Homo sapiens: one gene and its partner. The protein of the gene in region 2 interacts with the protein of the main gene of each other region in a pairwise test. Each region holds a gene or a part of one and is shown on either strand. Other genes may lie near its edges.

What was found.
Region 1: the proteins of CDH7 (region 2) and FGF21 interact in a two-hybrid assay, tested with the Homo sapiens proteins (one large-scale study listed by BioGRID and IntAct).

Annotation. Positions count from the first base shown.
Region 1 is NC_000019.10:48,753,951-48,758,062, reverse strand, and holds the start of FGF21 (fibroblast growth factor 21 precursor), read right to left. Parts: upstream 2,540-4,112; 5' UTR 2,279-2,539; intron 2,173-2,278; 5' UTR 1,827-2,172; coding exon 1,592-1,826; intron 1,138-1,591; coding exon 1,034-1,137; intron 134-1,033; coding exon 1-133. UniProt on the Homo sapiens protein: Stimulates glucose uptake in differentiated adipocytes via the induction of glucose transporter SLC2A1/GLUT1 expression (but not SLC2A4/GLUT4 expression). Activity requires the presence of KLB. Regulates systemic glucose homeostasis and insulin sensitivity.
Region 2 is NC_000018.10:65,749,512-65,753,111, reverse strand, and holds the start of CDH7 (cadherin-7 isoform 1 preproprotein), read right to left. Parts: upstream 2,101-3,600; 5' UTR 1,962-2,100; exon of another isoform or gene 1,160-1,961; intron 1-1,159. UniProt on the Homo sapiens protein: Cadherins are calcium-dependent cell adhesion proteins. They preferentially interact with themselves in a homophilic manner in connecting cells; cadherins may thus contribute to the sorting of heterogeneous cell types.

The DNA of each region.
Region 1 (4,112 bases), on a different chromosome or scaffold from region 2:
GTGCAGGGTCCCGGTGTGGGGACTTGTTCCCTGGCAGGTGCAGCGGGAGGCCGTGGGCTTCGGACTGGTAAACATTGTATCCGTCCTCAAGAAGCAGCTCCCGGAAGCTGCAGGCCTCAGGGTCAAAGTGGAGCTAGGGGACAAAAACAGGATCAGAGACAGGGTTCCTCTGTTTTCCTGATGTAAGACCCAGGATCCAGGCCCCAGCCCTGCCTCCCTCAGACCCAGGGGTCCAGGCCCCCAGCGCCTCCTCCCTCAGACCCAGGGGTCCAGACCCTAGTTTCTCCTCCATCCGACCCAGGAGTCCAGGCCCCCAGCGCCTCCTCCCTCAGACCCGGGGTTCCAGGCCCCAGCCTCTCCTCCCTCAGACCCGGGGTTCCAGGCCCCAGCCTCTCCTCCCTCAGACCCGGGGTTCCAGGCCCCAGCCCCTCCTCCCTCAGACCCAGGGGTCCAGGCCCCCAGCCCCTCCTCCCTCAGACCCAGGAGTCCAGGCCCCCAGCCCCTCCTCTAGGAAACAAAACAGCAAGGCAGGTTTTGTTTTTTACCCCAGGGCTCTCCTGCAGGGACCTGCCTCCCAGTTCAGACTTCACAGAGAACATTCCAGCCCTCGGAGCCATCAGTGCTCTCTCAGGCCAGGCGGGGTGTCTCCCTAGCACTCAAGGTCCTGGTCACTTTACTGGCCATGGCTTCCCCGAGTGTCCCTGTGCCCAGCATGAGCCGTGCACACAGGGGCCGTGTGGGCAGGAGCAGGGGTTACTGAATCACGAGACTCCCAATAACCTGAGCCTCAGGCCGCTCCAGCATCCACACATCACATGATTGAGGTCACTGGCGCCCCGGCCTGGGCCTCAGTTTCCTCATCTTGCAAACACTGATGACAACTTCAACCTCCAAATGTTGCAGCTGGGGGCGTGCAGAGCAAATAGAATCAAGTCTGGCTCCGGGGGGGATGAGCAAGACAAGGCACCCCAGGCTGTGAGGGCGACATATAGGAGGAGCATGGTGGGTGGTGAGGAGGGTCCTGGAAACTCACCGATCCATACAGGGCCCCATCTGGCCGCTGGCACAGGAACCTGGATGTCTTGACTCCCAAGATTTGAATAACTCCCGGCTTCAAGGCTTTCAGCTGCAGGAGACCTAAGGGGTGAAAGCGATAAGGTGGTTCGAGGACCTCTCCCACCCGGGACTGTCCCACCACCCGACTCTGTCCCACCATCCGGCTCTGTCCCAGCCCTGGGAGTCCAAGCCCACAGCCTACCTCCTCCCTCAGACCCAGGAGAAGCCCAAGCCAAAGCCCCCTCCCAACTCAGACCCAAGAGTCCAGGACCCCAGCCCTTCCTCCTTCAAACCCAAGAGTCCAGACCCCCAGCCCCTCCTCCCTCAGACCCAGGGGTCCAGACCCAGCCCCTCCTCCCTCAGACCCAGGGGCCCAGATCCCCAGCCCCTCCTCCCTCAGACCCAGGAGTCCAGATCCCCAGCCCCTCCTCCCTCAGACCCAGGGGCCAAGGCCCCCAGCCCCTCCTCCCTCAGACCCAGGAATCCAGACCCACAGCCCCTCCTCCCTCAGACCCAGGCTCTGGCCCACACTCACTTTCGGGGCTCTGGTCAGCAGCGCCCCCCACCGTCCCATCCTCCCTGATCTCCAGGTGGGCTTCTGTCTGCTGGGCATCATCTGTGTAGAGGTACCGCTGCCGGACTTGGCCCCCGAATTGCAGGAGAGGACTGGAGTCAGGGATGGGGTGTGCCTGGCAGGCTCCCAGCAGAAGACCAGCCAGCACAGAAACCCACAGTCCTGAGTGCTCGAACCCGGTCTCGTCCGAGTCCATCAATGGCTCGGGTCCTCAGGTGATCTCCGGGGTGTGAGCTCGGAGAAGCTGAGTGGTTTAGAATTGGTGCCAGATTCCAGTTGTCCAGGTGAGTAGACTCAGGTGGCCTGAGTGCCTGGCTCCTCTTTCGGCTGGATCCTCAGCTGACAGAACACCCTTGTTTTTTGGGATAGATGCAGAAGCTCCAGAATTTATACCCAGACAGGCCCGCCCAATCACCCTCCCTGCGCCTGAACCATGATATTTGACCCATTTGGCAGGAGCTACAGAATTCCATCGTGGCAAGGGCAGCCTGAATGGATGATGTAACCTGGGGTCCTTTCAATGGAGGGCCAGACTCCTGGGTCTAGGGGATGAGGGAGGGGAGGATCGGGTTAGCTGGGACCCAGGTGAAAGGGGCTGGGGGCCCACATTCCTGAGTCTCAGAGAGAAGGATCTGGGGTCTCAAGCACCTGAGTCGGAGGGAGGAGGGGTGCTGGGCTCCTGGAAAAACCACCTCTTGGACCATCTATGCAGATCACGCAGAACAAGAGAAATTTCTGCGCCCCATCTGAATTTCTAAGTTTGGGGGGAGGGCGTGATCTGACACTGAGGTTCCTTGATCCTCAGCAAGGCGGCAATTGCTGTATGAAAGAAGCGACCGCATCTGAGACACAAGTATCCTGCCTTGGAAGCCTCTCACCTGGCCGTGGGCCAACCTCAACCTCATCTGTCCCTGCTCAGATGCTCAGACCCTGGACATCCCAGCCTCCTCCTCCCTGATGCAATCCTGGTGTTTCTTTCACCAGAGAAGCCATCCCAGGCCCAGGCAGGTGCTCCTGAAATAACCTGGGGGGAGGGGTGGCTGAAAGTCCCTGACTGGAGTTGGCAGCCAAGCCAGGCCCTGGAGTGGGCACCCAGAGGGAAGACAGGTTGGCTAATTTCCTGGAGCCCCTAAGGGTGCAAGGGTAGGCCTTCTGTGTCTGAGGGAGGAGGGCTGGGGCTCTGGACTCCTGGGTCTGAGGGAGGAGGGGTGGGGGGCCTGGACTCCTGGGTCTGAGGGAGGAGGGTCTGGGCCTGTACTCCTGGATCTGAGGGAGGAGGGGCTGGGGAACTTGGGCTCCTGGGTCTGAGGGAGGAGGGAGCTTTGGTCTGGACTCCTGGGTCTGAGGGAGTAGGGGCTAGGGATCTGGACTCGTGGGTGTGAGGAAGGAGGGGCTGGGGTCCTGGACTCCTGGGTCTGAGGAAGGAGGGGCAGGGGGCTTGGACTCCTGGGTCTGAGGAAGGAGGGGCCGGGAGCCTGGACTCCTAAGTCTGAGGGAGGAGGGTCTGGGGGCCTGGACTGCTGGGTGTGAGCAGAAGGGTCTGGGTGCTGGGAGTCCCGAGCCTGGGGAGATGATGGTTAAACTTCTGGGAATCAAGTCAAACTCCTGAGTCTTTGACATTGATGTATCTTGAATGGGAGGGTCAGTCTGTGGGGAAGGATTACCCAGGTGCCGAGGCAAGAGACTGAAGGCACAAACTGTTTCAGTATAATAAAGAAAATAGTTAGAATAAGAATAGTTATCATACAAATTAGATATAGAGATGATCATGGACAGTATCAATCATTAGTGTAAACATTATTAATCATTAGCTATTACTTTTATTCTTTGTTGTATAACTAATATAACCAGGAAACAACCGGTGGGTATAGGGTCAGGTACTGAAGGGACATTGTGAGAAGTGACCTAGAAGGCAAGAGGTGAGCCTTCTGTCACACCGGCATAAGGGCCTCTTGAGGGCTCCTTGGTCAAGCGGGAACGCCAGTGTCTGGGAAGGCACCCGTTACTCAGCAGACCACGAAAGGGAATCTCCTTTTCTTGGAGGAGTCAGGGAACACTCTGCTCCACCAGCTTCTTGTGGGAGGCTGGGTATTATCTAGGCCTGCCCGCAGTCATCCTGCTGTGCTGTGCTTCAATGGTCACGCTCCTTGTCCTCTTGCATTTTCCTCCCGTACTCCTGGTTCCTCTTTGAAGTTCGTAGTAGATAGCGGTAGAAGAAATAGTGAAAGCCTTTTTTTTTTTTTTTTTGAGGCGGAGTCTCGCTCTGTCCCCCAGGCTGGAGTGCAGTGGCGTGATCTCGGCTCACTGCAATCTCCGCCTCCTGGGTTCACACCATTCTCCTGCCTCACCCTCCCAAATAGCTAGGACTACAGGCGCCCTCCACCACGCGCCCGGATAATTTTTTGTATTTTTAGTAGAGACAGGGTTTCACCGTGTTAGCCAGGATGGCCTCCACCTCCTGACCTTGTGATCCGCCCGCCTC
Region 2 (3,600 bases):
CCGCGTGCTCTCCACCCTCTCTTCTTCATTGGACACTAAACACTAGAGTCAATTCAAGGGTAAATTGCAGTAATATAGATGCTTTACAATTATCCTTTTATAAGAAAGGAAAAAGCTCTGTGCTATTAAATCAATAAAAGTAGACTTAAGAAGACTTGTGAGTCTGTAAAGTGATTAACACAATTCTAATGACCTCTTGCAGCCCTTAATTACAATAATATCTCACGTTGTAAGTGCACAATGCCCTTTTATTAAAGCTGCAAACCTTAATAGCTTTTAGCAGGGTGATGGTCTGTGCTACTGATTATTGTTTTCTTTATTTTTCTTTCCTCAGACAGACTCGGCTAGCTTTCCCAGATAAGACTATTGACGTTGGATGTTACCTAATTGCTCTGCTATCCCACTCCATATTAAACACTAACACAGAAGCAAGACTTCCACAAAGTTGCCAGTCTTCCTACCTGTCTCAATTCTTTTGCATTTTAATTCATACTGTTCAAAATAGCCTTAAAAATAAAGAAAAGGATTCTTCATGCATTTCCCCTTGACATATAGAACAAGAAAATATCCTAGGTAAACCAAAGTCTAACTAGTTCTTTAGGAAAGAAGTAATTCTTGGTGAGTTACTGAACGCTTCAAATGTAATTAATTTTTTTTCTTAGCTCTTTTCTCCCATAACAATTTGCCTTTATAAAGACTCTCTTAAAACTATTTAGATATTGTGTCTATGCAAACTTTCCTTTAGAAAAAAAGACTGCTACTGCTCTTAAACTCTTAAAATACACATTTTTTGTGTGAGGTGTTATCTGCTTTTAAAAATACATACTTGTCACTTGGCAAGGGCCATATATTAACAAGTCACTTACATTTTTCTCTTATTTTTTGTATAAAGTTATGTTTATCTACTTCTCTATGAAAAATGATCTGAACACCTGTCTAGTAGCTACAGAAATTATGAGGACAAGTCTTACGTAAAGGTCTCACTTAATAAACGATCTAATAGAGACAAGATATTTATTGCAAAGCAAAAGATGTTATAAGTACATTCCTCGTTCAATTTGCAGATCTCCAAAGCCTTGATACACCCAATCCTTGATGGTTTCTCAATAGTTTGCCATTTGCCCAGTGCTGGGTGAACTCATTGCCAATCTTTACTCACCTGAACTATGACATTTAAGAAATCCGTAGGGTTAACGATCTAAAACGTGAAGCGGTACAGAATAACGGGTCTTTTCTCATTAATCCACACTGGAAGGTTGAATACCGGCAAGTAGCAGTGTACCATGTGCACCCATGAAGAAGTCCACCATGCATTCAGAGAAGCAGGGCGCCCTTTTCCCAGCGCACACTTAAGGTACTGCCAGGCGGAGGGGACGCAGGATGCAGATGAACCAGATCAGCAGAATACTAATTACAGGGGAAAAAAGCAAAGCACCCTGAAGTGAGCTCCACCTTCACGAAAGGTAAAAGGTGTCCAGAGCGAATGGTTCAAAGGACTCCTGCCCAAAGCGGCGCATACCCCCTTCCAGCCTCAGACCTCTGCAGAACCCGGCGGCACAGCCGGCGCGGAGTTGTGCCCCCATCAGTCCGAGGTTGAGGGAGGAGCCTGCTTGTGGTCCTCTTTGAGGAGAGTGCTCCAGCCTGCCCATGTTTGCCGCTGCACCTGGAGAGTGCCGGGATTTGCTCTTACCCTCAACTACTACTCCTCGTGTCGCACCTGGTGTCTGTCAACACCGGCTTTCCGGGCCAAACGCCCCCGCCTCCGTCCACAAGCCTGTCCTGCCTTGCAGAGCCACATCTCACTGCAACACGCAGTAACTTGGGGACGCCAAGGGAAACTCCACACGGACATCCCCGCCCGCTCTCCGCTCACTGATTAGTCCTGCTTCCAAAGGCGCACAGCAAGGGCGCACATCTGCCCAGCGGCGCCTCCCCAGCCCCGCGCAGGCAGACACACTCACCTGGGGCCTCGCTGCCCTCCCCACGGCGTCAGACGCCAGGGACCCGGGCGTGTGCATCCGAAAGAACGTGCGCTCGGCTGCCGGACGCCCGCGGGCTCTTGGGGACCCAGTGCGCGCAGCTCCGCGCGCGGGGCAGACTGGAGGAACCGGCTCGACACCCGCTCGGGCCCGCCCGGCACGGGCTCCTCCTCCAATCACAGCCCACTCCGCGGTGCGCGGGGACCCTGCCCCGGCCTCGGGCGCCGGGGGCCCGCTGCGTCTGCTCACTGCGAGGGGCCCCTCCGGCTCGCCCGGGCAGCTGAGACGCAGGGTCCGGAGCCAGCGGGAGCGCGCGGCCAGAGAGAGGGCGAGAGGGCGCGCAGGAGAGGAGGAGAGAGCGCGCCGGAGCCGGGGCCGAAGAGGGAGGGGAAGAGGGCGACGATGGTGGGCGGCGGGCGCCTGCTGTCAGCGCTGTCGGAGGCCGGCCCAGGGAGCCACTGAGACTTCGGCGCCTCCCAGAGACCCGGTGGGGGCTACTGGAAAAGAACGCGAAGACGGAGCCGCTCGGCCGCCACGCGCGCACACACACACGCGCGCACCCTCGCGCACCCTCCTCCACCTCCCGCCTGGCGGATCTGTACAGATGGATTCCTTCGCAGGAAAATAAAGAAGAGGGGTGAAAGTAGGAGGGGCTGCAGCCCATCCATCTCTCCGTGAGGCATTTGCATCTGAAAGCACGGAGCTGGAGGAGAGTTTTGAGGGTATTTTCAAGCTGCCCCTCCAACACCCACCTTAGCCTGTCGTGAAAGCCGTGATCAGTTGAGCTCCTGAGGCATGAAGGCAAAGTCATAAAACTAATCAGAACTTACAGTTTTCTTGCTTGATAGTTTTGCCCTTTCAATCTCCTCGGACTGCCCTAGTTCTACTTTTTTTTTTTTTTTTTTTTTAACTTGCAGACAATTTTCTCCCCTGCTGGGCTCTCTAATGCTAAACTTCCAAAGTGTATGATTTACTCGCAGTGCGGGACAGAGGACCCTTGCAAGGTGTGGAAGGAAGGAAAGAAGGAAGGAAGAGGATCTGGTCTTTTCTTTAGAGCGCGGTGCAGCCCCTGGAGTTGAGCACGCTTTGTTTTCCCCTGCTCTGGTGCTCGCTTTAATCTGATGACTGGGTGTTCTGTCATAGGGGTTAGGAGGGGGAAGAGATCATTTCCAACTACCTTCCTTTCATTTTTCTCACTCTACCAATGGAAAGTGTCCTCTTTCTCTTACGCACTTATTCTTACTTAACCTTAGCAGTAATTCTTCGGATACCAGTTACATGGGCTTAGGCTTGTCCGTACCATTATCTCTGATTTCTTGTGCAGTCAAGCACACTTTTCTGTCCCCAGTCCAGCCTCTCCTGGCTATTTAACTGGCGCCATGCCTCCCCCACCTCGCCCATTCAATTTAGTCAATGTTTAAAACCGAATTCTATGCTAATAATTCTGACAGCAATTATGGACTCCTGTTAAGTTCCAGATACCATCCTATGTTGCTTACCTAACATTAATGCATTTTAAAAGTTCTAACTCCAACCCCAAAGCTCCCCAGATCCAGGGCTGCTTGGATGACCATTTCATGGTCCATTTCCACTCAGCTGTCAGCCATCACCCAAATTCAAG